Homo sapiens: one gene and its partners. The protein of the gene in region 3 purifies or fractionates together with the protein of the main gene of each other region. This does not show direct contact. Each region holds a gene or a part of one and is shown on either strand. Other genes may lie near its edges. The genes, in order: PNPT1, HTR1E, DYM, DSG4, CCKBR, PLCD1 and MRS2.

What was found.
Region 1: the proteins of DYM (region 3) and PNPT1 fractionate together in Homo sapiens (co-fractionation; one large-scale study listed by BioGRID). This does not show direct contact.
Region 2: the proteins of DYM (region 3) and HTR1E purify together in Homo sapiens (co-immunoprecipitation; one large-scale study listed by IntAct). This does not show direct contact.
Region 4: the proteins of DYM (region 3) and DSG4 purify together in Homo sapiens (affinity purification with mass spectrometry; one large-scale study listed by BioGRID and IntAct). This does not show direct contact.
Region 5: the proteins of DYM (region 3) and CCKBR purify together in Homo sapiens (co-immunoprecipitation; one large-scale study listed by IntAct). This does not show direct contact.
Region 6: the proteins of DYM (region 3) and PLCD1 purify together in Homo sapiens (affinity purification with mass spectrometry; one large-scale study listed by BioGRID and IntAct). This does not show direct contact.
Region 7: the proteins of DYM (region 3) and MRS2 purify together in Homo sapiens (affinity purification with mass spectrometry; one large-scale study listed by BioGRID and IntAct). This does not show direct contact.

The regions. Positions count from the first base shown.
Region 1 is NC_000002.12:55,645,345-55,648,844, forward strand, and holds part of PNPT1 (polyribonucleotide nucleotidyltransferase 1, mitochondrial precursor), read right to left. Parts: intron 2,110-3,500; coding exon 2,003-2,109; exon of another isoform or gene 1,929-2,002; intron 1,143-1,928; coding exon 1,071-1,142; intron 979-1,070; coding exon 915-978; intron 89-914; coding exon 5-88; intron 1-4. UniProt on the Homo sapiens protein: RNA-binding protein implicated in numerous RNA metabolic processes. Catalyzes the phosphorolysis of single-stranded polyribonucleotides processively in the 3'-to-5' direction. Mitochondrial intermembrane factor with RNA-processing exoribonulease activity.
Region 2 is NC_000006.12:86,944,028-86,947,527, reverse strand, and holds part of HTR1E (5-hydroxytryptamine receptor 1E), read right to left. Parts: intron 1-3,500. UniProt on the Homo sapiens protein: G-protein coupled receptor for 5-hydroxytryptamine (serotonin). Also functions as a receptor for various alkaloids and psychoactive substances.
Region 3 is NC_000018.10:49,373,646-49,377,145, forward strand, and holds part of DYM (dymeclin), read right to left. Parts: intron 1-3,500. UniProt on the Homo sapiens protein: Necessary for correct organization of Golgi apparatus. Involved in bone development.
Region 4 is NC_000018.10:31,386,777-31,390,276, reverse strand, and holds part of DSG4 (desmoglein-4 isoform 2 preproprotein), read right to left. Parts: coding exon 3,458-3,500; intron 1,911-3,457; coding exon 1,755-1,910; intron 1,404-1,754; coding exon 1,259-1,403; intron 1-1,258.
Region 5 is NC_000011.10:6,266,338-6,269,837, reverse strand, and holds part of CCKBR (gastrin/cholecystokinin type B receptor), read right to left. Parts: intron 170-3,500; coding exon 1-169. UniProt on the Homo sapiens protein: Receptor for gastrin and cholecystokinin. The CCK-B receptors occur throughout the central nervous system where they modulate anxiety, analgesia, arousal, and neuroleptic activity.
Region 6 is NC_000003.12:38,006,996-38,009,819, forward strand, and holds the end of PLCD1 (1-phosphatidylinositol 4,5-bisphosphate phosphodiesterase delta-1), read right to left. Parts: intron 2,817-2,824; coding exon 2,658-2,816; intron 2,437-2,657; coding exon 2,277-2,436; intron 2,164-2,276; coding exon 2,047-2,163; intron 1,642-2,046; coding exon 1,463-1,641; intron 1,373-1,462; coding exon 1,240-1,372; intron 1,169-1,239; coding exon 1,019-1,168; intron 864-1,018; coding exon 778-863; 3' UTR 501-777; downstream 1-500. Other genes in the region: VILL (villin-like protein), read left to right, coding at 1-60. UniProt on the Homo sapiens protein: The production of the second messenger molecules diacylglycerol (DAG) and inositol 1,4,5-trisphosphate (IP3) is mediated by activated phosphatidylinositol-specific phospholipase C enzymes. Essential for trophoblast and placental development.
Region 7 is NC_000006.12:24,409,436-24,412,935, reverse strand, and holds part of MRS2 (magnesium transporter MRS2 homolog, mitochondrial isoform b precursor), read right to left. Parts: intron 3,476-3,500; coding exon 3,363-3,475; intron 2,210-3,362; coding exon of another isoform or gene 2,137-2,209; intron 715-2,136; coding exon 541-714; intron 1-540. UniProt on the Homo sapiens protein: Magnesium transporter that mediates the influx of magnesium into the mitochondrial matrix and regulates magnesium metabolism. Also permeable to calcium, sodium and potassium ions.

The DNA of each region.
Region 1 (3,500 bases), on a different chromosome or scaffold from region 3:
TTACCTACAACAGGTCCATTTTCTTTTCTAGATGCTCGAGGTTTTGAAATAGTTTTGTTCATGATCTGTAATATCTCCTTTTTTGCCACTAGAAGAGAAAAACACAAAAATTATAACTACATAAAACAAATATGATCTGAAATACTGTACTCTTAGTTTTCACGGTATACAATCTAAACCCTGTAGCTTAATAATTGAAGCTTTCCACATCCCTATTACCTTGAAAATTCACTCATATTCTCTTCTCCAAAAATCCCATCTTAAATAGAGTTGTTTAATTTGTAAAAATTGAAATTTCACTGGTAACCCACTTTGGCGTGTATTCATGTGTCCCAAAAACTTAGTTGTGCTTCTTCTTTTTTTAAAATAGATATGGGATCTCACTACGTTGCCCAGGCTGGTCTTGAACTCCTGGGGCTCAAGCAATCTTCCTGCCTTGGCCTCCCAAAGTGCTAGGATGAGCCACCATGCCATGCCTGGCTACTTAGTACTTCTTTTTTTTTGAGACATTTTCCCTCTGTCACCCAGGCTGGCGCGCAATGGCATGATCTCGGCTCACTGTAACCTCTGCCTCCTGGGCTCAAGCGATTCTCTTGTCTCAGCCTCCTGAGTAGCTGGGATTACAGGTATGCACCACCATGCCCGGCTAATTTTTGTACTTTTAGTAGAGACAGGGTTTCACCATGTTGGCCAGGCTGGTCTCGAACTCCTGACCTGAAGTGATCTGCCTGCCTCGGCCTCTCAAAGTGCTGGGATTACAGACATGAGCCACCACACCTGGCCAGTACTTCTTGATCTAAGTTATATGAAATTCCACTTTTTAAAGCAATATTTTATAATAAGCCTAATGAGAACTATAGTTCCCATTAGCAAAGTGGAAAAGAATGAAGGGAGAATCAAGCACACTAGCTCACCTGAAGCTTGTTGAATAGCCTCCATCACAATTTTTATTGGTATTCCAGGTAATTTAATATCAGCCTAATATGGAAAAGTCAAACAATTATATAAATATTGACTCATGGCATTATTTAAATGTTACAAAAATGAAACAAAATGGGTTTTAAAAATACCTGTAATGCAGTTATTCCTTTATTAGTGCCAGCTATTTTGAAGTCCATGTCACCATTGTAATCTTCAATTCCCTTCAGGAATTTAAAAAGTTATGACATAGTTTTAAACAAAAACAAAAGTCAACATATTCACTGTAGAAACATTTCAAAAAACAGCTTTAGAAGTAAACCATATCCTAAGTCCAAACACAAAGCAATGTTTTCTACATTAACTACCACTTCCAATTTGTGACTTTTTAAGCTACAATTATTTTCACCAGAAACATCATTTTATTTTTAGATCATTCCTTTCCCTCATAAATGCCTGAGAATGAATTTATGCTCATCCTAAAGTGAGTCATTATGAATACTTACACTGTGTAAGTATTACTGCAATACTTAAGGGTAAGTATTACTATTTTTTTAAAGTAATCATTTTATTTTATTTTATTTTACTTATTTTGAGACACAGTCTTGCTCTGTTGCCCAGGATGGAGTGCAGTGGCACGATCTTGGCTCACTGCAACCTCTGCCTCCCGGGTTCAAGCAATTCTGCCTCAGCCTGCCAAGTAGATGGGATTACAGGTGTGTGCCACCATGCCCAGGCTAATTTTTGTATTTTTAGTAGAGATGGAGTTTTGCCACATTAGCCAGACTGGTCTGGAACTCCTGACTTCCCAAAGTGCTGGGATTACAGGCATGAGTCACTGTGCCTGGCCTATTACTATTAATATAATATCTATTTTAAATTCATATCCTATAAGATACAAGGTGAACATGCAGAGGAGGAAGGGAAGAACAAGTACCTGTTCTTCAAATACTAGCATTCTTCTAAGCATACGCTAGGTGCAAAGTACATATAGTCTTCACCATTATTTGTTTTTATCTTTTAATTTTTATTTATTTATTTTTAGTCTTCATTATTAAATATTTGAAACCGAGAATATACTTGCCAAAATATCTGTCAGCAAACGATAATCTTCTATTTCACCCTTCTCAGGATCGGTTTTGGTGACCAATCCTATTGCTACGCCTGCAACAGCAGATGAAATTGGAACCCCTATAATTGGGAAAAAGAACAACTGTGGGTAATGTGTACATGAGCCTAAAACAAATATTTATCTATCAATTTTTTTTTTTTTTTGAGAGGGAGTCTCGGTCTGTTGCCCAGACTGGAGTGCAGTGGCATGATCTTGGCTCACTGTAGCCTCTGCTTCCTGGGTTCAAGCAATCCTCCCACCTCAGCCTCCCCTATAGCTGGGATTATAGGCACCCGCCAACACGCCTAGCTAATTTGCTTGTATTTTTAGTGGAGATGGGGTTTCAACCATGTTGGCCCTGTTGGTCTTGAACTCCTGACCTCAGGTGATCTGCCAGCCTCAGCCTCCCAAAGCGCTGGGATTACAAGCGTGAGCCACCGCGCCCAGCAGACATTTACTTTTAATGTAAGTGGATATTGTTGCCTAAATTGACAATCACCGAAGCTGAGTTGGAAGTCTTAAGAGGTCATCTGACTACTTCGTTTGTTTTTGAACATATAATAAAGTTCCCTAAAACAATGTAAACAAGTACTATATCCAGCAAAAACTTCTCTAACAATAGCAAACTTTATAACTTTTAAATTATCCGTTGGTTTGCTTTTTTGCTTCAGGTGTCTTATTTTCTTTTTGTTGGAAAGTAAGCATCTATTTGGTAAATTCTTCCAGCCTGAACTCCTCAGTTTACCTCCCCATGGCAGCTAACATTAGTGTATCCTCCTAGAAAATTTCTGTGCACAAGTATAAATGTAAATATAATCTTTTGTTTTCTTTACTCGTGGCGGCAGACTGTATGCATTTACTGTTCTGCACCTTGCCTTTTTCACTTAATAACATGTCTTGGATATTGACACATACCACCACACAAAGCTCTACTTTATTCCTTTGAATAGTTTTAGTACTCCCTGTATGTTTTACAAGTCACACACAGAAGTGCGATTGCTGAGTCAAAAGGTATGTGCATTTACGTTTGTTAGACTGTCAAACTGCCTTCTAAAGACATAGCATTTTAAACTTTTACCAGTGGTGTAAGAAGGTATATGCTACTCTATATTCTTATTAATTCTTGTCAAATCTTTTGATTTTTCTCAATTTAAAGTGTAAAAAATGGTTATTTTAAATCTGACTTGTTTTTTATGACTGAGGTTGAAAACTATTTCATGTTCATAAACCTATTTATATGTCTTATTTTGAGAACTCCCTGTTCATGGCCTTCAACACTTTTCTACTTGGTTGGCAGTCTTTTTATTACTGATTTTCTTTCAATATGGACAGAGCTTTATTAAAATGTAAAGATAAAATATTATGTTTAATAACATATAAATAAAATATTTTATTTCCTAGTTCGTTGACTTTGCTTATGGTCATTAGTTTTCTGTGTAGGATTTTTAGTTTACGTAATCATGGTTTCTGG
Region 2 (3,500 bases), on a different chromosome or scaffold from region 3:
TTATACTTTTCTGCATTTCCAAATTTTCTACAATGAACATGTGATATACTTATAAGCAGGAAAAAAAATCCCTTAAAGTGGTTGAGTGGAGGAGTTTGAACTTTACTTGTTTTGTATCTGCCAAATTTATGCCAATTTACAGTGAGAGAAGAAATGTAGATAACACAAGAATCAAACAAAAAGAACTCTTTGAGATAACCAAGAGTTGGTTTTATTTGCCTACTTCAAAAGGTTGTTTTGTGAGTTCTTAAGTAACTATAAATATTTATACAGGTGTTGCTACAATGCCAGAAAATTAAAATAATGAGGATAATTATTTATATTACAAAATATTAATGATATCACAAGATCACATAAGCATTGTACAATTCCACTAGATACATGGAAACCTTCTCTGTGCATTTTTTTTTTGAGACAGAGTTTCGCTCTTGTTGCCCAGGCTGGAGTGCAATGGCGCGATCTCGGCTCACCACAACCTCCGCCTCCTGGGTTCAAGCGATTCTCCTGCCTCAGCTTCCTGAGTAGCTGGGATTACAGCCATGTGCCACCACGCATGGCTAATTTTGTATTTTTAGTAGAGACAGGGTTTCTTCATGTTGGTCAGGCTGGTCTCAAACTCCTGACCTCAGGTGATCCGCCTGTCTTGGCTTCCCAAAGTACTGGGATTACAGGTGTGAGCCACCGTGCCCGGCCTCTGTGCATTTTAATTATGGTTCAGTTTCTAAAAATTCTGTTTGCAAGCCACTTTTCAGGGCAGCATATCTAATGTGTTCAGCAAGATAAGATTAAACCATATAAAGTTATTGTAAAACTTGGGGTAGCTGGATTTGATACATACACTTAAAACACAACTGACAAAAATCATATCTAGTTACTTCAGTTGTCCTCAAAGGACCATGGAGTAGAAGCTGAAACATATAGTCATCTTCATCATTGTCATTATGACCATCATCTCATTTTTTTAGATTTCAGCATAATTTTATATATAGCCATGCATCATACATTCTGAGAAATGCATTGTTAGGCCATTTCATCATTGTGTGAACATCAAGATGTGTACTTCCACAAACCTAGATGGTGTAGCCTACTGCACACCTAGGCTATGTGGCATAGCCTATTGCTTCTAGGCTACAAAGCCAGACAGCATGTTACTGTATTGAATACTGTAGGCAAATGTAACACAATAGTATTTGTGTATCTAAACGTAGAAAGGGTACAGTGAAAATATGGTATAAAGATAAAAAATGGGATACTTGTGTAGGGAACTTATCATGAATGGAGTTTGCAGGATTAGAAGCTGCTCTGGGTGAGTCAGTGAGTCAGTGTTGAGCGAATATGAAGGCCTAGTACATTACTGTACACTACTGTAGACTTTAAAAACACTGTACACTTAAGCTATACCTAATTTGTAAAAACCATTTTTTCTCTCTCCAATAATAAGTTAACCTTATCTTACTATAACTTTTTTACTTTATAAACTTTTTAATTAGGCCGGGTGTGGTGGCTCATGCCTGTAATACCAGCACTTTGGGAGGCCGAGGCAGGTAAACCACCTGAGGTCAGGAGATTGAGACCAGCCTGGCCAACATAGTGAATCCCCATCTCTACTAAAAATACAAAATTTAGCTGGGCATGGTGGCACATGCCTGTAATCCCAGTTACTTGGGAGGCTGAGGCAGGAGAATTGCTTGAAACTGGGGAGGCGGACGTTGCAGTGAACTGGGATCACCACGCCACTGCACTCCAGTCTGGGAGGCAAGAAAGAAACGTCATCTCAAAAAAACAAAAACAAAAACAAAAACAAAACAAAAAACCCCCAAACTTTTAAATTAAAAAAACCTTTTTGACTCTTTTTGTAATAGCACTTAGCTTAAAACACATTGTATAGCTATACAAAAATATTCTCATTATTTATAACATTATTTTATAAACTTTTTTCTATTTTTAAAACTTTAAATTTTTTCTTTCCTTTTCACACTTTTTTGTTAAAAACTAAGATACTCACGCCTGTAATCCCAGCACTTTGGGAGGCTGAGGCGGGCGAATCATTTGAGGTCGGGGGTTCAAGACCAGCATGGCCAATATGGTGAAATCCCGTCTCTACTAAAAATTCAAAAAATTAGCTGGGCATGGTGGTGAGTGCCTGTAATCCCAGCTACTAGGAAGCTGAGGTGGGAGAATTGCTTGAACCTGGGAGGCGGAGGTTGCAATGAGGTGAGATTGTGCTGCTGCACTCCAGCCTGGGCGACTGAGACTCTGTCTCAAACAAACAAACAAACAAACAAACAAAACTAAGATACAGACACATTAGCCTTAGCCTACACAGGCTCAGGATTATCAGTATCACTGTATCTATTTACACATCCTGTCCGTTGGAAGGTCCTTCGGGGCAATAACATGCATGGAGCTGTCATCTCCTGTAATAACAATGCTGTTTTCTGGGATACCTTCTGAAGGACCTGCCTGAGGCTGTTTTACAGTTAAACTTCTTTTCACTTTTTTTTTTTAATTAAGTAGGAACACACCCCAAAATAATGATAAAAAGTATAGTACAGTAAATGTATAAACCAGTAACAGTTGTTTATTATCAAGTATTATATACTATACATAATTGTATGTGCTATACTTTTATACAACTGGCAGCACAGGTTTGCTTACACCAGCCTCATCACAAGCACATGAGCGATACATTGTGCTACAACAACATTGCAATAGCGATGATGTCACTAGGCTGTAGGAATTTTTCAGCTCCATTATAATTTGTGGGACCACTGTCATATATGTGGTTTGTGGGTGACCAAAATATTGTCAATGTGCTGCATGGCTGTCTATTATCTATTTTATCCTGGTAAGTCTGTTATTATCATCACTTTCATGAGAGAACTAAGGTATGAAACAAATAAATGGCTTTTCCAAGGTCACACACACAGCAAGGTGTAAAATTCACATCTCTTAATCATTGATTTGCTGTTCTTATATCACTATCTATAAAGTGGAACTGGATTCTCAGCATTAATAAAACTAATAAAATCTTGATATTGTATAGAGCTTTATATTTTACAAATTCTTTGACAGATTATCTAATTTCAGTCTGAGAACATTACTATGAGATAAAACCACGAGGTGATACTGAATTGAGTCTTTATCAAACAGCTTCTGATGTCTTATATTGTGGCAGGCAGTATCTCAGGTGGCTCTCAATGATTTGGTTCCTGTAGGTATTCCTCCCACTGTGTAATCCCTTCCCCTTGAATTAGGCTGAAACTAGTGACTTGTCTCTAATGAGGAACACAGCAGAAGCCATGGGATATCACTTCTGATATCAGGTTACAAAAAGACCTTGGCTTCTATTTTGCTATCTTTCAATCTTAGCCCTTGCTCCAAGGACAGCAAGCTGCAACATCTGCATGAAGCACTCTGTTTTGTTAGTAGCCCTATAGAGAGGTCCATGTGGTAGCAAAAGAACGTCTCCAGCCAGCAGCCAGCTGGGACCTGAGGCT
Region 3 (3,500 bases):
TGGTAGGTTTCAACTTAATTTACCCAGCTCCTATTCAAGATGGAGTTGTTCTGGTTCCCATGCCTCTGACAATATCACGTTAAATAAAGTAAAAATATGCACATTTTGTAGGACATAATACAAAACAAAGTGCTGGGTTTGCAGGTATTGAGTGGGCTATGCTCTTGGGCCCTGTGAGGATAAACATTCACTCCATTCTTGCTGCTAGCACTTCATGGGAAGGTTTGCAACTTACCAAGCAGAACTATGTTTTTGGTACTACTGGCATCACAAACATGAAGGCCAGCATTAACAAAACTAACACACGCAAGACACAATTCTAATTAAAAGCTCTAACTTCAGACATCAGTATATATTTAAAAAATATAGAAGGCTAATGATCAAAATAGTAAATTAAACATATCCATCTCTTGAAACTCAAACTCAATGTATAAAGCACAAGCTCTGAAAATCATGCTAAATGATAAACAATAACTGTGAAAGATGATGGGGTGGTTTGGGAATAGTTAAATTAATTAGATTCTACATAATTCTCACAAATATTCTCTCCTAGAAAAAAATAAAGTATATAACATTCAAAATACCAAAATTCTGCAGTATCTCTCACACACCAACTTAGTTAACTTCCTCAAAATCCTTGATTAAGTCTATACTATAACATACAGTTATATGGTAGTCAGAGAACATAATGGTCAATCCCAAAAGAAGATCAAGACCAGCAAAAAATCTAGCTATATTCAGAAACAACTTAGAAGGTCTTATGTTCCTTTCCTACTTAGTGACTGAGAAAGAGACAGAAAATGTATTTTGCCTGTGAAAGTTTAGGGGGAAGAGGAAGCAGTACCTGTTTTTCCAGTACCACTAATCAAATGTGGAGTCAAAGGGACTTTTATTATTGAAATAAATTTTGGTGAAATGACAAATGCTCAATCTCTAAAAATATTAGGATGGTTCAGTTTGCTTCCTGTGCCTCAGCTCCCTTTTCCAAGGTAGCTTAATGAAAGGTAGCTTCAATAAAATTTGGCTGCCTAGGCCAGGCCCAGTGGCTCACACCTGTAATCCCAGCACTTTGGGAGGCCGAGGTGGGCAGATCACATGAGGTCAGGAGTTCAAGACCAGCCTGACCAACATGGTGAAACCCCTGTCTCTACTAAAAATACAAAAGTAACCGGGCATGGTGGCACATGCCTCTAATCCCAGATACTTGGGAGGCTGAGGTAGGAGAATCACCTGAACCCAGGAGGCGGAGGTTGCAGTGAGCCGAGATCGTTCCATTGCACTCCAACCAGGGCAACAAAAGTGAAACTGTCTCAAAAAAAAAAAAATTGGCTGCCTATCTTTTTTAGAGCAGAATCTCAAAAGTTCAACAGGAATTACTTCAGAGTAGAAAGCACAGAATCCAAGAAAGGAATGGCTGATCTACAGTGAAACTGGAGAGTTGTTTCCCCTGAGAAGACAAGGTAAACATTTTTATCCAAGGGAAATACTCGTGGGGCAGCCCCTAAACACCTGGGGCTCTCACAGTTACAAAGCGGGAAAGGGGAAAAGACACACACACACACACACACACACACACACACACACATCTATACCTACCTTGGGCTTTAGAAGAAAAAAATATATATATATAAACATATATACACATATATATATGTATATATACACACACACATATTCATTGTCATTTTATTCACCCTTTATAGGAAACTATTCTTAATAAATTATAACTTGGTACAGTATCTGAAATTTAACATTTTTTTAACAGCATCAAAGAGAATTTCAGTACCTATCCCCTTCCCCCTATCCCCCAAAGTTAATGAGGTAGTAATTCATACTAACTCAAAACTGGACAAAACAATAAGTGACCTTCCATGAAATGGTCTTCTGGGACAGAAGGGAAAATAAAAGATGACAGCAAATAAAACTGCTAAAATTGATATGCTTGCTTTATTCAAGAATAATAAAGTTATCCACATTTTAACTATGAAATGTAGAATAATACCTGAGATACTGTGATGGTTAATATCGAGTGTCAACTTGATCGGATTGAAAGATGCAAAGTACTGTTCCTGGATGTGTCTGTGAGGGTGTTGCCAAAGGAGATCAACGTTTGAGTCAGTGGACTGGGAGAGGCATACCCACCCTCAATCTGGGTGGGCACCATCTAATCAGCTGCCAGGACAAATAGAATAAAGCAGGCAGAAGAACATGGAAGGAACAGACTTGCTGAGTCTCCTGGCCTTCATCTTTCTCCCATGCTGGATGCTTCTTGCCCTCAAACACTGGACTCCAGATTCTTCTGTTTTTGGACCCTTGGACTTACACCAGTGGTTTGCCAGGGACTCTTGGGCCTTCAGACACAGACTGAAGGCTGCACTGTCAGCCCTACTTTTGAGGTTTTGGGACTCAAACTGGCTTCCTTGCTCCTCAGCTTGCACAGGGCCTATTGTGGCACTTCACGTTGTGATCATGTGAGTCACTACTCCTTAATAAACTCCCCTTCATATATACATCTATGCTATTTGTCCTGTCCCTCCAGAGAACCCTAATACAATAACTTTCAAAGAAAAGTAGAACATATGATTTCCCTTCCCTGCAACCAGCCAACTATGTCATCTGTTGGAAAGAAACTTTAGAACACTTACGAAACAAACTTAATTGTGATATTTTTAATTCAGTATGCTCTCAAGGATGAAACTTGAATTTAAATACACTCAACCATATTTGTCCAGTATCAGTAGAGGAAAACAAAAATGTTTCCACATAAACAGAAAACAAAAGATTGCTGATATCTTGCTCAAGCACAAACTAGAGTCTGCTCATCTATCTGCCTATTTGGGGACAGGGCATATGTAAACTGCAGCAAATTCCATTTAGTCTACAAACTTCTGACCAAAGAAAATGAAGAGCTCTTGCCTGCTAAATGTTCTGCATGCCTTGCACACAGCATTGCTATGAGGCAGTAGTTTCCTGCCCTGTGATGTTTGCCACCTTTCAGTTTTCTCAAAACCTGCAGAACTTAGTGAGATTCGGACCTTACAGAAATGAAAGGCGATAGACTCCTTGGACATGAACCTGCCAAATGGCTATCAAGGTGGCCAGTCACAGAAAAGCTGTTAAAATGTTAGAAGATGGTAAAATCGTATTTTCAAAGTGTGAGTCAAGAAGAATGTCCTTTTCTAATTTGGAAATACACTGAGGATAAGAATGAAGAAAAAGATTGCAGTAAAACAGAAATTCATATTCTATTTCTCCAAAACCGTTTCCTGATCTTGAAAGAGGCCATAAGGAGCCTAAAGAAGGATGAAATGACTGTCCTAAGTTGCTCAACAGTATGTGTAGAAAATTGCTCTACCATCAGGTAATGGGGTCTCAGAGGGAGAAGAGATAAATACACATGGTCACTCTGCTACTTGAGTTGAAAGTATTGTAAACTATTGTTTTCTTGTACCATGTCATTTCATTTGCTCAAAATGTAACATAATACCTTAATACATTTA
Region 4 (3,500 bases), about 18 Mb from region 3:
GAAAATTATAGTTTAATTAAATGCAACATTATAATTATGTATTGAACACCTATATTCTTAATTGCCACTTTTCCAGAAAGCAGATAATTACTCTTGGTTGCATTGGAAGATAGCATTTTACCAAACAGTCACAAATTTATAATTATTGAAAAGAAGACTTGTCCATAGCAATATAAGAAGTTCCTAATTACTCATAGGTAGAAAGAACAGGTATCTTAGGCAAATCCCCAAGGATGTCAATCTACAGGACAGACTTTTCAGAATTGTCAGGTCCCTGATGTTCTTTTGCTTCCTAGGCAGGGAGACTTGGTTGTGGGTTTCACCTTCTCTTCCTTCACCAGTGTTGTTTTGAGGTGTGTTGATGAGGAAGCAAAGATGGACTTCGGAGTCTCTCTTTGTGTTGGCTCTCCTAGGCAAAATCTCTTTGCCTCTCTATGGGAGGACTATCCTAGTTCAAAAAAAAATTTTGTGTTTATCTGCCTTTTTTCCTGAAATTTATTTTTCCTATTATTTCCCCCCAAATTTGTTTAGAGGTATATGGGCAGACATAGATTTGAAAGGGAAAGGGACAACAGGGGTTTGGGGAACAAACTGATATTCATGTGCTGTATGTAAAATCAAGGTCAGAAGGCAAAGGGAGAGGAGAGATAGGAAAGTAGCCATATAAGAAAAGCATAAGAGTAGGAAGGAAAGAAGTTCAGGAGAATTAATATAAAGGAAAGACAGAGGGTATTAGAACTGGAAATGGAATTAAGTGGAATGGAAAGAAATGAAAGAAAATGAGAGAATAGAATGTAGTTTGCTATGTAGTCTGTGAAGATCAATGATTACCCTTAGTGATTGATCTGATGGGTACAATTGCGTGTGCTTCCACCATCACGCTCTACCTGGTGTGGGTCAGCCAAACATTTTGAGTAAGAGACCAGAACAGAGCCTTCTTAAACATTCCTGGTTTATTCCTCAGTTTGCTCGCTTGGATTTAGTTCTTCATGAGCCCAGTAGCAATCTTTAAGCAAGGTGCTAAGCACCTGCTAAATCCCTGTAGGGACCTTCCGCAAGTAAGAAGATATTTTATTTTATCATTTTAGACATGATTTCTTTTTCTAGCTCAGTTATAAATTAAAATATGTGGGGTTTATTCAAAATACAAGTGTGGCTTTTTCTGTCCTTTACATTTCCTGTATGTCAGTCCTCTAAAGCTTTTGACCAAGAGAAGTAGATATGCTGTGACGTAGAGAAGGAATGTCATTCTACTTACTGGCATCACTATTTTCTTCAATGCTGGCTGTGTATACACTTTGCGAAAAGACTGGAGCGTTATCATTTATGTCCATAACTTTGACTCTAAGCTCAAGAGGCCTTTCTAAATCTTCACCCCGTGAATTCAGAGCCCGGCAATAGATCTGTGGAAAATTGGAAAAAAGCCATCTTTTTCCACCAAAGGAATTTTAGTAACATGCTTGAAAATATATCAGAAAATAGGCAAAGAAACAATTTTTTCCAGTGAATTCAGACTGTAGTACAGTCAAATAATTTAAATATGATCAGGACACTTGACTACATGTACATGCAACATACCAGAGAATCCTGAACTATAAACTTTTATTTTCACACTCTTTCCATTCCTTCAAGTCTTCTATTTGGGTTCAGTCTGCCATGTTTTATCAAAAGTAATCCATTATCTTAAGATAATATTTTTTGAAAAAGGGAAGAAAACTAATATGAACAAATCAAAACATATGGCTATGACTTACCAAGAAAAGTGGAGTTATTTCTCTGTCTACCACTGAAGTGATGTTAATTTCCCCAGTGCGAGGATTAATGGTGAATACCCCATATGGTGGTCGATCAATCCCTACTCCAGAAATCCGGTATGTTATCTTCTGGTTCGATTCGCAGTCTGATCGAATCTATAAGAAAAATAGCTAGGATTGTGATCCAGTTTAGAGCAGATAATGCTTAAGAGTGTAGTGGAATAAGAAGGGAGTGGGTTTCTTTACCAAATGGGCTTTGGATTGAAACCTGACACCATGACTTAGTCCTGTGTGACCCTGGAAAATTTACTTAACTTTGCCCAGATCAGCTTACAGTGGGGATAATATCACACAGATTTGTTGTGGGAATTACATGAGGTAATGTGTATAACATACACACTTGGTGCTAGGTTTGTTGTTAATAACACATTGTTCAATTCTCTGATTTTTTAGCATACGCAGAAATAGCTTCACAAAAGAAATTACAACATTTACTATTTTTTAAAAATAACTTGTGTCATATTAATAAGTATCCTACCTAAGCTGGAGTCTGAGATTTAGTCAAAATGGTAGATAAGTTGAGAATATCAGAAAACTATAATGGTTAGAGATATTTGTAATAATTTTATAAATGTAAACATACTGCATCACTTTTCTGCCAAATAGATTTTATGGCAAATATTCTGCCACACAGATTTTGCTTTAGTAGCTTTATTACCTATTGCTGATAAATTTAAACTGAAACAATTTTGAAATCTCACCTATATACTAACGATAAGAGCATTCAGTAAAATAGTAAGATTTTTTACCCACACATTCACAGTCAAATAAAGACTGCTGGAAATAGAACTTTGGTTAGCTTAACTCTAATCCAAAGGCCCTTTTTACATAGAAGAAAACTCAAGAACCTCCCAAAATGCAGAGAAAAAGAAAAGAATATGCAATATAAGTGGAATAACATAAAGCAATTACTGAGTTGAATGGAAATAATAATTTAAAAGCGTCCCTCCAATTTGAAAACATCTGAGAGAGAATACATCTGTTTTCTTGAGCTGAGGTTGTATCTGTAACACCACTGCTGATGCTTACTATGTTTTTAATATAAAGCTGGAAGGAGGGAATTCTGCAGATCACTTTACTGTTCAGGATCAAGATGTCCAGAAAGAGTGAATGAAGCTATTAATGTGGATCCCATCCTTCCTGGATCAATTTATTACACATTCTTTAACTCTCCTTCCTTTTCAGTAGGCATTATTTGTGAAAGTCTTATAAGACTCTCTTATTTTCTGGATGTAGAGATCTGGTGGGAACTTTTGATACTATCCTTACTTTCCTGGAGTTAATTCATCTAGTGCAGTAAACTTGGCTTGACTTTCTGGAGGGCCAGGCTTCAGACTGTCACTATGTGAATACGTTTCCTATGACATTGACAGGCAATAATGAGCAGTACACAAATGGATGAACAAAGCCCAGTTGTGCTGGAGATCCAGCCCTTTCTTCTAGAATCACTTGCCATTGACTGCCTGCCCCACGTCAGCCTCCCTGCACATGATATTCAAATCAGTGGCTCAGCAACTGGAGCAAATGACCACATTCTGTCTTCTTAAATAACTGTGGAGCAGTGAAGCCTGCAAATCTTGGAGATATTTGAAAGCTTCCCTGCTCTGCAAAAGCATTTGTCATCAGATTGCTTCATCACTTACTTTGGCAATGGGGTTCCTCTTCGAGTTGTCCTCTCCTTCTCGA
Region 5 (3,500 bases), on a different chromosome or scaffold from region 3:
CAAGCCACAGCCAGCAGGAGGTCGCTGACTGCCAGTGAGAGGAGGAAGGCATTGGTGACAGTCCTCAGGCGGCGGCTCAGTCCCAGGACCACGATGATGAGCATATTTCCTCCAACGCTCATCAGGAAGATCACTGCGTAAAGAGTGATTCTAATGGCCAGCTCCAATTCTGGGTAAGAAAAGGGAGAGGTGGCAGTAGGGGGTCAGCCTTCATTCAGTCAAATCCCCCTCCTTCCGTCTTATCCCCAACCCTCACTACCCAGCCAGATGCCTACATTCCCCACCGATGAACTGCTCAGTAAATGGTGAACTTGAATCCTTTAGCCTTCTAACCCCTTGAGGTTTGGTTAAATTGGCCCAACTCTGCCCTTCCTTAAGAAAGCCTGTCTCTTCTCAAGGTTCGTTCCAAATCTTTCCTTCTTTCTGCAGACAAACTTCTTAAGAGGATATTTGTGTCTTCTCATTTACTCTTCATTCCATTACAATACAATATTCTGTGCCCTATCAGTGCATACTTCTTCCCAAGTACACTAATCTTTAACTGCTAAATTCAAAGGTCCTTTCTTAGCCTACTCTATTTGACCCCGCTAGAGTATTCTACACTGTTGACAACCCACTACCTTTTGAATCACATCAGATCATGTCTTTATTCTCTAAAAACAAAAGCAAAAAAAAAAAAAAAAAAAATACTTCACTTACTCTCTACTGTCTGCAACCCCTCAGAATATCATCAAGATCCTCCCAGAAGGGACTTCTTTCTCTCCCACCCCCTCCCTGTACAGCAGGCATTTAAGCAAGCCACTGGATGACTCAATTTCTTGAATGCATCATTTGCACTTGTGACTCTCTCCCTGCTCAAGCTGGTTTCTCAGACCGGAATACTCTTTTACCAACCCTCCTCACAACTTCTACCCCTCATCACAAGCTTATTTTCTGTATCTGGTGAATTCCTATTCATCCCTTGTTGGTCAAGACTCAAATTGACTGCTACTTCTTCTGTAAGGCCCTTCTGTAAGGCCCTTCTACTCTCCTCTTTCTCTGACCCATGCCTGTTTCTTACACAACTATTACAGCCTATTTTACTTCTGCCTTGTATTTTAATTCTCTCCAAACATTCATTCTCACTCTATAAACATTTACAGAGGACTCCCTTTGTGCTAGGCACTGGGGACAAAGAGATGAACATGACAAGATCCCTGCCATTTGAGAGCTCACAGTGGGGAAGTAAACTCAGATACATAAACAGATGTGATAAGGAGTGAGGCTGAAGGATGTATAAGGTGCTGTTGGAGCTCATAGGAGGGACACCTGTGTGAGGCAGAGGGGCTGGGAGGCTGACCCCATTCTTTTGTGTCATTGTCTATTAAAAGATGGATTAATCTTTGGACCACCACATCACAGCCAAGCAGATTTAGATAAAATCGAATTGGATTGAACAGGACTGAATTACTCACACCTATGGCCTCAGCATGAGAGGGATTAGAGCTGGAAGGTAGAGAGGGCAGGGGACAGAGCCTCCTAGATTGCAGAGAAGGAAAGCCTCAAAGCTGCAGCCCCCTCTTCCAGAGCCCCATACTTTGACTGATTCTCATTTTAGCTCCCAAATTGAAAACTACAGCCATGCACTGAATAACGATGTTTTGGTAAATGACCAATTTCATATACGATGGTGGTCTCATAAGATTGTAATGAACAGCTGAGTGCAGTGGCTTATCTTTGTAATCCCAGCACTTTGAGAGGCCAAGGCGGGAGGATCACCTGAGGCCAGGAGCTTGAGATCAGCCTGAGCAACATAGCAAAGTCCCGTCTCTACAAAACATAAAAAATTAGCTGGGTGTGGTGATACGTGCCTATAGTCATAGCTACTCAGGAGTTTGAGGCAGAAAGATTGCTTGAACCCAGGAGTTCAAGGCTGCAATGAGCTATGATAGTGCCACTGCACTCCAGCCTGCACAACAGAGTGAGACTCTGTCTCAAACAAAACCCAAAATAACAACAACAAAAGATTATAATGGAGCTGAAAAGTTTCTATCACCTAGTAATGTTATTGTAACATTGCAGCATAATGCATTACGTATGTGTTTGTGGGGATACTGGTATAAACAAACCTACTGTGCTGTCAGTCATATAAAAGCCTAGCACATACAATGATGTACATAATACTTGATAGTGATAATAAATGACTGTGTGACTGGTTGATGTATTTACTACATTATACTTTCAATCATTATTTTAGAGTATACTCTTACTTATTTTTTTAAAAAAGTTAACTATAAAACAGACTCAGGCAGGTCCTTTAAGATGTATTCCAGAATAAAGCACCGTTATTATAGGAGATGACAGCTCCATGTGTGGTGTTGCCCTGATGACCTTCCAGTGGGACAAGATGTAGAGGTGGAAGATGGCAATATTTATCCTGACCCTGTGTAGCCCAATGTGTGTGTTTGTGTCTTGGTTTTAACAGAAAGGTTTTTTTTTTTTCTAAAGTTAAAAACAGAAAAATGCTTATAGGATAAGAGTATAAAAAAAGAAAATATTTTTGTATAGCCATACAATGTGTTTTTTGTTTTACACTGTGTTATTACAAAAGAGTCAAAAAGTTTATAAAGTAAAAAGTTACAGTATGCTAAGTTTAATTTATTATTAAATACATTTAGTGTAGCCTAAGTATCCAGTGTTTATAAAGTCTACAGTAGTGTACAGTAATGTCCTAGGCCTTTACTTTCACTCACCACTCATCACTGACTTAGCCAGAGCAACATCTACTCCTGCAAGTTCCATTAACGGTACGTGCCCTATACAGGTGTATGATGGTTTATCTTTTATGCTGTATTTTCACTGTACCTTTTCTATGTTTAGATACACAAATACATAACATTGTGTTACTCTTCCCTACAATATTCAGCACAGTAATATACTGTACAGGTTTGCAGCCTGGGAGCAGTAGGCTATACCGTATAGCCTAGGTATGTAGTAGGCTATACCTTCTAGGTTTGTGTGACAAACACTCTATGATGTTTACACAATGAAATCACCTAATGATGCATTTCTCAGAAGGTATCCCCATCATTAGTTAATGCATGACTGTATTTTCTCATAACAAAAACCAATTTATTTAGAAATTGTAGGCATCAAATAAATGCTATTTATAAAAACTTCCAAACCGAACTCAGCAGTAACATTCTTTGCTCAAGACCACACACCTGATAAGGGGCTGAATCAGAATAGAAGCCAAGTCCCTGATCCCTAATGTGCTTTGCCTCCTACTGTTTGTTCCTGCAGTACTCTGTTATTCATCATACTACCTCCATGTTTTTTGTTTGTTTGTTTGTTTTTGTTTTTGTTTTTGAGATGGAGTTTTGCTCTTGTTGCCCAGGCTGGAGTGCAATGGCATGATCTTGGCTCACCGCAACCTTTGCCTCCTGGGTTCAAGCGATTCTCCTGCCTCAGCCTCCTGAGTAGCTAGAATTACAGGCATGCACCACCACGCCCGGCTAATT
Region 6 (2,824 bases), on a different chromosome or scaffold from region 3:
TTCTACAGCATGGCCACGTGGAGGCAGCGGCAGGAGAAAAAGCAGCTGGGCTTCTTCTGAACCCAAGCCCTCTCGACTGCCCCTATCCCCTGGACCCCAACATACCTACAATGCTGGGGAGGCCCTGCTTCCACTCCCCTCAGAGGCTTTTGGTCATCCTCTGCGTGTCAGTAAAAGCAGGCAGCCCATACGAGCTGTGGTATGCGTGCTTTCAAGCCCGGGCCACTCAGCAGGTCCACCTCTCAGGGGAAGGGGCCTCCAGGGCTGGCGGGTGTGAGCTCTCAGTGCCACCCCACAGAGGGGTTTATTTCTCGTTGGTCTCTCCAGATACCCCTGCCCTACTCAACTATGTGCAAGGAAGGTGGAGAGTGAGGTGCTAGGGCTCCAGCACTCTAGGACATGGGGACACACACACACACACACACACACACACACACACACACACACACACACGCTTCACAGGGGATTTTTCTGGCATCCAGGTAAAGAGACCACAAGGCTTAATCTTATCGTGATTTTTATAAAAATCCTTGACCACTCGCTGGCCGGAGGGTGGAGAGGGCTGCAGTGTTATTCCTAACGGAATGAAGGACAGCTCCAGGGACTGGGCTAGCTCCTGGTCCCCAGGGAGGCAGCAGCAGACACTATGTTAGGGCTGAAGGCAATTTGGGGGCCTAGCTCTGAGCAAGAGGCTGGGAGCAGCCACACCAGCCCTGTCCCCACATGTGGACAGAGGGCCCAGCCCACTCAGGGGGGACCCCACTGGCTTCCTCCAGCCTAGTCCTGGAGGGAGATCTTCACAAAGAGGGTGGCTGATGGATGCTGGTCCCCGTTCTTAGACATGAGGTGGACATGGCGGTATCCTGGTGGGTGGACAGGCAGGAGGGAACACAGAGAGAGTTCTGGTCATTCGGCGGCGGAGGGGGGGTGGATGCGTCAAGGGACAGCCAGCCCCAGCCCAAGAGACGCCAGGCCCTGCTTCCCACCACCTTGGCCATCCCCTTCTCTTGACACTCACCTTGCTTGAGGCTGTTCAAGGGGATGGTACTCTGGCCAATGAAGTCATTCTTGGAGGAGGCATCATAATCTTCCACCAAGAAGCGGATGAGGGCAAGGTCAGGCACAACTACCTCAAACGCAAACTCCGTGTCCCACCATGGGTTGAAACCTAGGGGGACAGGCACCATATCAGCAGCATGGACACCAGCCCTAGTAGCCCAGCCCAGGCCCAGCACCTACCATTGTTGGTGATGACAGCAGTCTGGCGGCTGGCCACGTCCCGGCTCACGCCATGGATCTCCACTGTCACTTTGGGGTCCACAATTGAATTCTTATTCTTGTTGACTTTTGGCAGCTGCTGCCCCGAAATGACCTGAGGAAAGGCAGAGGACAATGGACAGTTCAGGAGTGGTAGCGGGGAAGGGAGGTCCGTGGGCACCTGTCCCTCCTAGGTCCAGCGTACCCTGATGTTGAGCCGCTTCCGTGCCCACCAGGGCCCCTGAGCCAGGGCGCGGGGGTTAAAGGTGCCGTTGGGGTCTCGCAGGAAGGCGGGCTTCAGCACGTACCCACAGGCCCCGTTGTCCTGGAAGCGGCCCTGGTACACGTCCATCTCTGGCCCAGGTGTCTGGAAATTCAGGGCCACTACAGGCAGGACAGAGCAGTCACAGGCTGTGGGCTGGCCCTGGGGCCCTAGAGCACAGCCTGCTCAGGGTACACTAAGGCCTAGGGTCACATGGTGAGTTAGCAGGGCCCAGCATCACTCCAATGCCTGCTGCCCTCCTGCCACCCTCAGTGACCCACCATGCTAACCACACCTTCCATTCCTGGTGTGAGAATTCAAAGGACTAGTGTGCTAATGAGGTTTCAGACACTGTGACATGCTGGTGGGCAGATATTTCCAGACTGATATTACCAGCTCCACAAGCCCCTGCATTTGACCCTGCTTGGGTCCTCAGAGCTCCACTGCATGGCCTTCGAGGCTCCAGGCCCCCGGCCTTGGGACTGAAACCCTCCTCCAGGCCTCCTCCAGCCCCAGCCAGCCCATACCGATCTGGCAGCCCCCATTCCACATCTCCACGGGGCTGTAGTTGGAGGAGTCTGTTCTCCATCCAGCCGGGTAGATTCTGCTCAGGTGCCCCACGTTGTGGCGGACAAAGCCGTTTCCTGAGGGGAGGTGTGGTTCGGTCAGCAGTGGAGGCCTCCTGGTGAGGCCCAAGCCCTGCCCTGCCAATTCTCTCTGTAACAGAGCAGGGGAGTGGTGGGGAGCCAGGCCTCACCTGATTCTTGGAGCAGTCGAAGGGCACGGTTCTCAGAGAAGGACGCCATCTCGTAGAAGGCCTGTCCAGGGGTGCCAGGACTGGAGAAGCCCCCAAAGTGGACACTCTTGCAGTAAATGACCATGTCAGAGAGCTCCTGTGCTAGCCTGAGCTTGTCCTCCTGGGGAACACGGGGAGGCCCGGGTTAGATTCAGTGGTTGGGGTAGGGTAGGCACTGAGAAAGCCAGAAACCCAGGCGCAGAGAGACAGAGGGAGACAGACAGAGAGAGCGGGGCAGAGGGTCTGAGTGGCAGCCACAGAGAACTGAGACAAGGCAGACCTCCCACGGGTGAGGGGATGGGGAAGGCCCGGGCTGCCCCACCCCACAGCTCCCCCTCAAACCTTGGGCTTGTGCTGCACACGGCTCCTCACTGCCTCATCCTCCATCTCAGCAGCCTCGTCTTCGTCTGACACCACAGTGGCCTCAGGGCCACCCTCCCCTCCAGGGGGCAGGAGCCCCCCGAGCTTCTTCCCCTTCAGCAGGATCTTCCCCTTCAGTTGCTAGGTGG
Region 7 (3,500 bases), on a different chromosome or scaffold from region 3:
TATGCTCCCAGCACCAACTCTTGCATGTAGCCAGTTCCTGAACAGTACCATCCTGACTTAACAGGAGGAAGAAAAGATAATGAAAGATTTGTGGGGTCAGGGAAGCAGAGAACCACCCTTGTTTAGAGCCTGACAGGAGTCTCAGACATCTAAGGACTCTTAATTTAAAGGAGGAGTCACTGGAAGAACTGTGCGTGATTCCTATGTCAATCTAGGTCTCAAAAAGATGCATCATTTACCTGGCTCAAACAAAGGATTGTACAAACAAATCAAAAAATGACTTGATGAAATGATTTAATAAAATAATTATCACATGTCAAGCATTTTTATAATATACATAGAGTCTTTAGTTCTATTTGACTGGGTCATAACATTTAAGAATTAAGTGATATCTCCATGTAGGATCCTTAGAGACGACTTGTTTCGGGGCAGGATGTGGTCAGGGGACATGCCATTGAAACAATACCCCAACTTGTCTTCCCACTCAATGACATTTCAAAATCAGAATAAACCCAAGAAGCTAAATAAAAACAGACTTACCCAATATTGCAGGAGTGCTTCTATAGCTCTAAACTCAAAAGGTAAAGGGTATGTAACGAGTTGACCCTCTCCAGACAACTGTGAAGGGAGTTCCCGGAACAGCCATTGCTCTAAGTTTAAATTACGATAATCTAATATCAGAAGACACTCTGGAGTTATCACAGCTTTCAAATACTGTTAAAAAAAAAAAAACCAAAACATATAAATATGTGAGTGTATATACACACATGCATGTATATACATATATATGTATACATACATATATATATGCAAATTGTAGAGCTGTAGGAAAAAAGAACATTCATAAAATTTGGTTTAATACTTTACTAATTGTGGATTAAGACTAAACCAAATCAGTGTTCATTTTTGTTTTTCAAAAAAATCAAGGTTTTTTTTTTCAAAAGAAAAGAAACTTAAAAAATATATGTCTTGATACTGCTAACTCACTCTCAATAAAACTGGAATTATTCACATAAATTATATATTTACTAAGACTTCTGGGGTAATCATGAAAAAAAAACAAAAACAAAAAAAAAAACACCAAAAAATACCCCCAGAAAGCCGGGCATGGTGGCTCATGCCTGTAATCCCAGCACTTTTGGAGGCTGAGGAAGGTGGATCATGAGGTCAAGAGATCGAGACCATCCTGGCCAACATGGTGAAACCCCGTCTCTACTAAAAATACAAAAATCAGTTAGGCGTGGTGGCCCACACCTGTAGTCCCAGCTACTTCAGAGGCTGAGGCAGGAGAATCGCTTGAACCTGGGAGGCGGAGTTTGCAGTGAGCTGAGATTGTGCCACTGCACTCCAGCCTGGCGACAGAGCGAGACTCCGTCTTTCTTTTTTGGAAAAAATAAATAAATAAATAAAGGGAACAAGATAAGGTCTTCCTAAAAGTCAGGTATTGAGCAGACTTTTAGAAAAGATTTAGTTTAATCATAATTAGTTTGGCACAAATGGAAGTTTCCTTTTTAAAACACCACTAAAGCATATAAACAAAATCTGAAATTAAGATGAAACATAGCCTTACTACTCTAATTTAGAACAATATGAAATTAGAATTTTTTCTAAAAAGACTGGTTATCTTGTATGTTAAAAGTAGATAAAGGTAGCCACTTTATCAGTGATATAGAAATTAGAGATAATTTTCTATTTTTACATTTTTCCAACATTCTATCATGAATTTTTTTTTCTTTTTTTTTTTTGAGATGGAAGTCTTGCTCTGTCACCCAGGCTGGAGTGCAGTGGGGCAATCTCGGCTCACTGCAACCTCCACCTTCAGGGTTCAAGCTATTCTCCTACCTCAGCCTCCTGAGTAGCTGGAATTACAGGCACCCGCCACCATGCCTGGCTAATTTTTGTATTTTTTAGTAGAGACGGGGTTTCACCATGTTGGTCAGGCTGGTCTCGAACTCCTGACCTCAGGTGATCCACCCCTCTCGGCCTCCCAAAGTGCTGGGATTACAGATGTGAGCCACCACAACCTAGCCTCATGAAAATTTTTATACAGAAAAGTTGAAAGATTGCAGTGAACACCATATACCCACCAGTTAGATTACACAATTATCATTCTGCTGAATTTGCTTTTTCACATACCTGTCTGTCTCTCCATGAAAGAGACACTGTTTTGAAGAATGCTAGCTACTGATTCCAAGAGTAGAGAATATTTCTGAAGAAAATCACATGGGAGAAGACTGCTTCATTTTTGATAAAGTATTTTTTATTTACTTATTTATTTTTAGAGATGGGATCTTGCTATGTTGCTTAGGCTGGTCACAAACTCCTGGTCTCTGGTGACCCTCCCACTTCAGCCTCCTGAGTAGCTGGGACTAAAGGCACATGCTACCAATACTGGCCCATTTTTTATTATTTTGATTAGTTCTAGAAAAATGAACAAAAATCTGCCATCAAAGACTCTTTGAAGAAAGTCTCATACCCACTACAGGGCCAATACCATTCATCTATTTTTGAACCTAAACATTAGCCCACCAAAATAACTGAAACCCACATTAACTCTGAATCACTAAAGAAAGTCAAATTATTATTTGGCATGCTCTGAATAGGTAAGGGAAAATACAATATATTTCAGAAAGTTTTCCATTAAAAAAATTTAAACTGGCCAGGCACGGTGGCTCATGCCTGTAATCCCAGCACTTTGGGAGGCAGAGGCAGGTGGATCACCTGAGGTCGGGAGTTTCAGAGCAGCCTGACCAACATGGAGAAACCCCATGTCTACTAAAAATACAAAATTAGCTGGGTTTGGTGGCTTATGCCTGTAATCCCAGCTACTCAGAAGGCTGAGGCAGGAGAATTGCTTGAACCTGGGAGGTGGAGGTTGCAGTGAGCCAAGATCGTGCCAGCCTGGGCAACAAGAGCAAAACTCCATCTCAAAAAAAAAATTAAGGCTATAAAATTTAATGTCTATTCCTGTGCTATTTAGAAAGCCAGAATACATTTTTGGTAGCTCAGGTTATACTATAATTACATGTAACTGTACACAATTGGATATATATCTATTATAAATCAGGATTGTCTTATAGTTTCCAGAACTAGAGAGTAAATCCCAACAGTGAGAATGAACACCACAGTCAGAGCTTTTCCAACTTAAAACACAGCAGTGTTATGCCTATTGAACATGTGCATATAATCCATATAAAATGAGTTCTACTCATAATAGCATATTAAGCTATAAAACATCCTATGTTTCAGGTAGCTATTTCTATTCCAAAATTACTTTTAACCTAGATACTAATCAAGATAGTTAGAAGGTAACTTTTATAAGATTGTATTGGAGAAACATAGATGAAAATAAAATATTTTACCTCCATTCTCATGATAATCCTATTGTTTCTGACTGTGATACTCATTACATGCTGAAATCTCAAATCTCTGGCTTGAAGACCTAACTCTTGGTATAATTCAGTTTTCTTCCTTTCTATAAAAGAAATAAACAGAGAGGG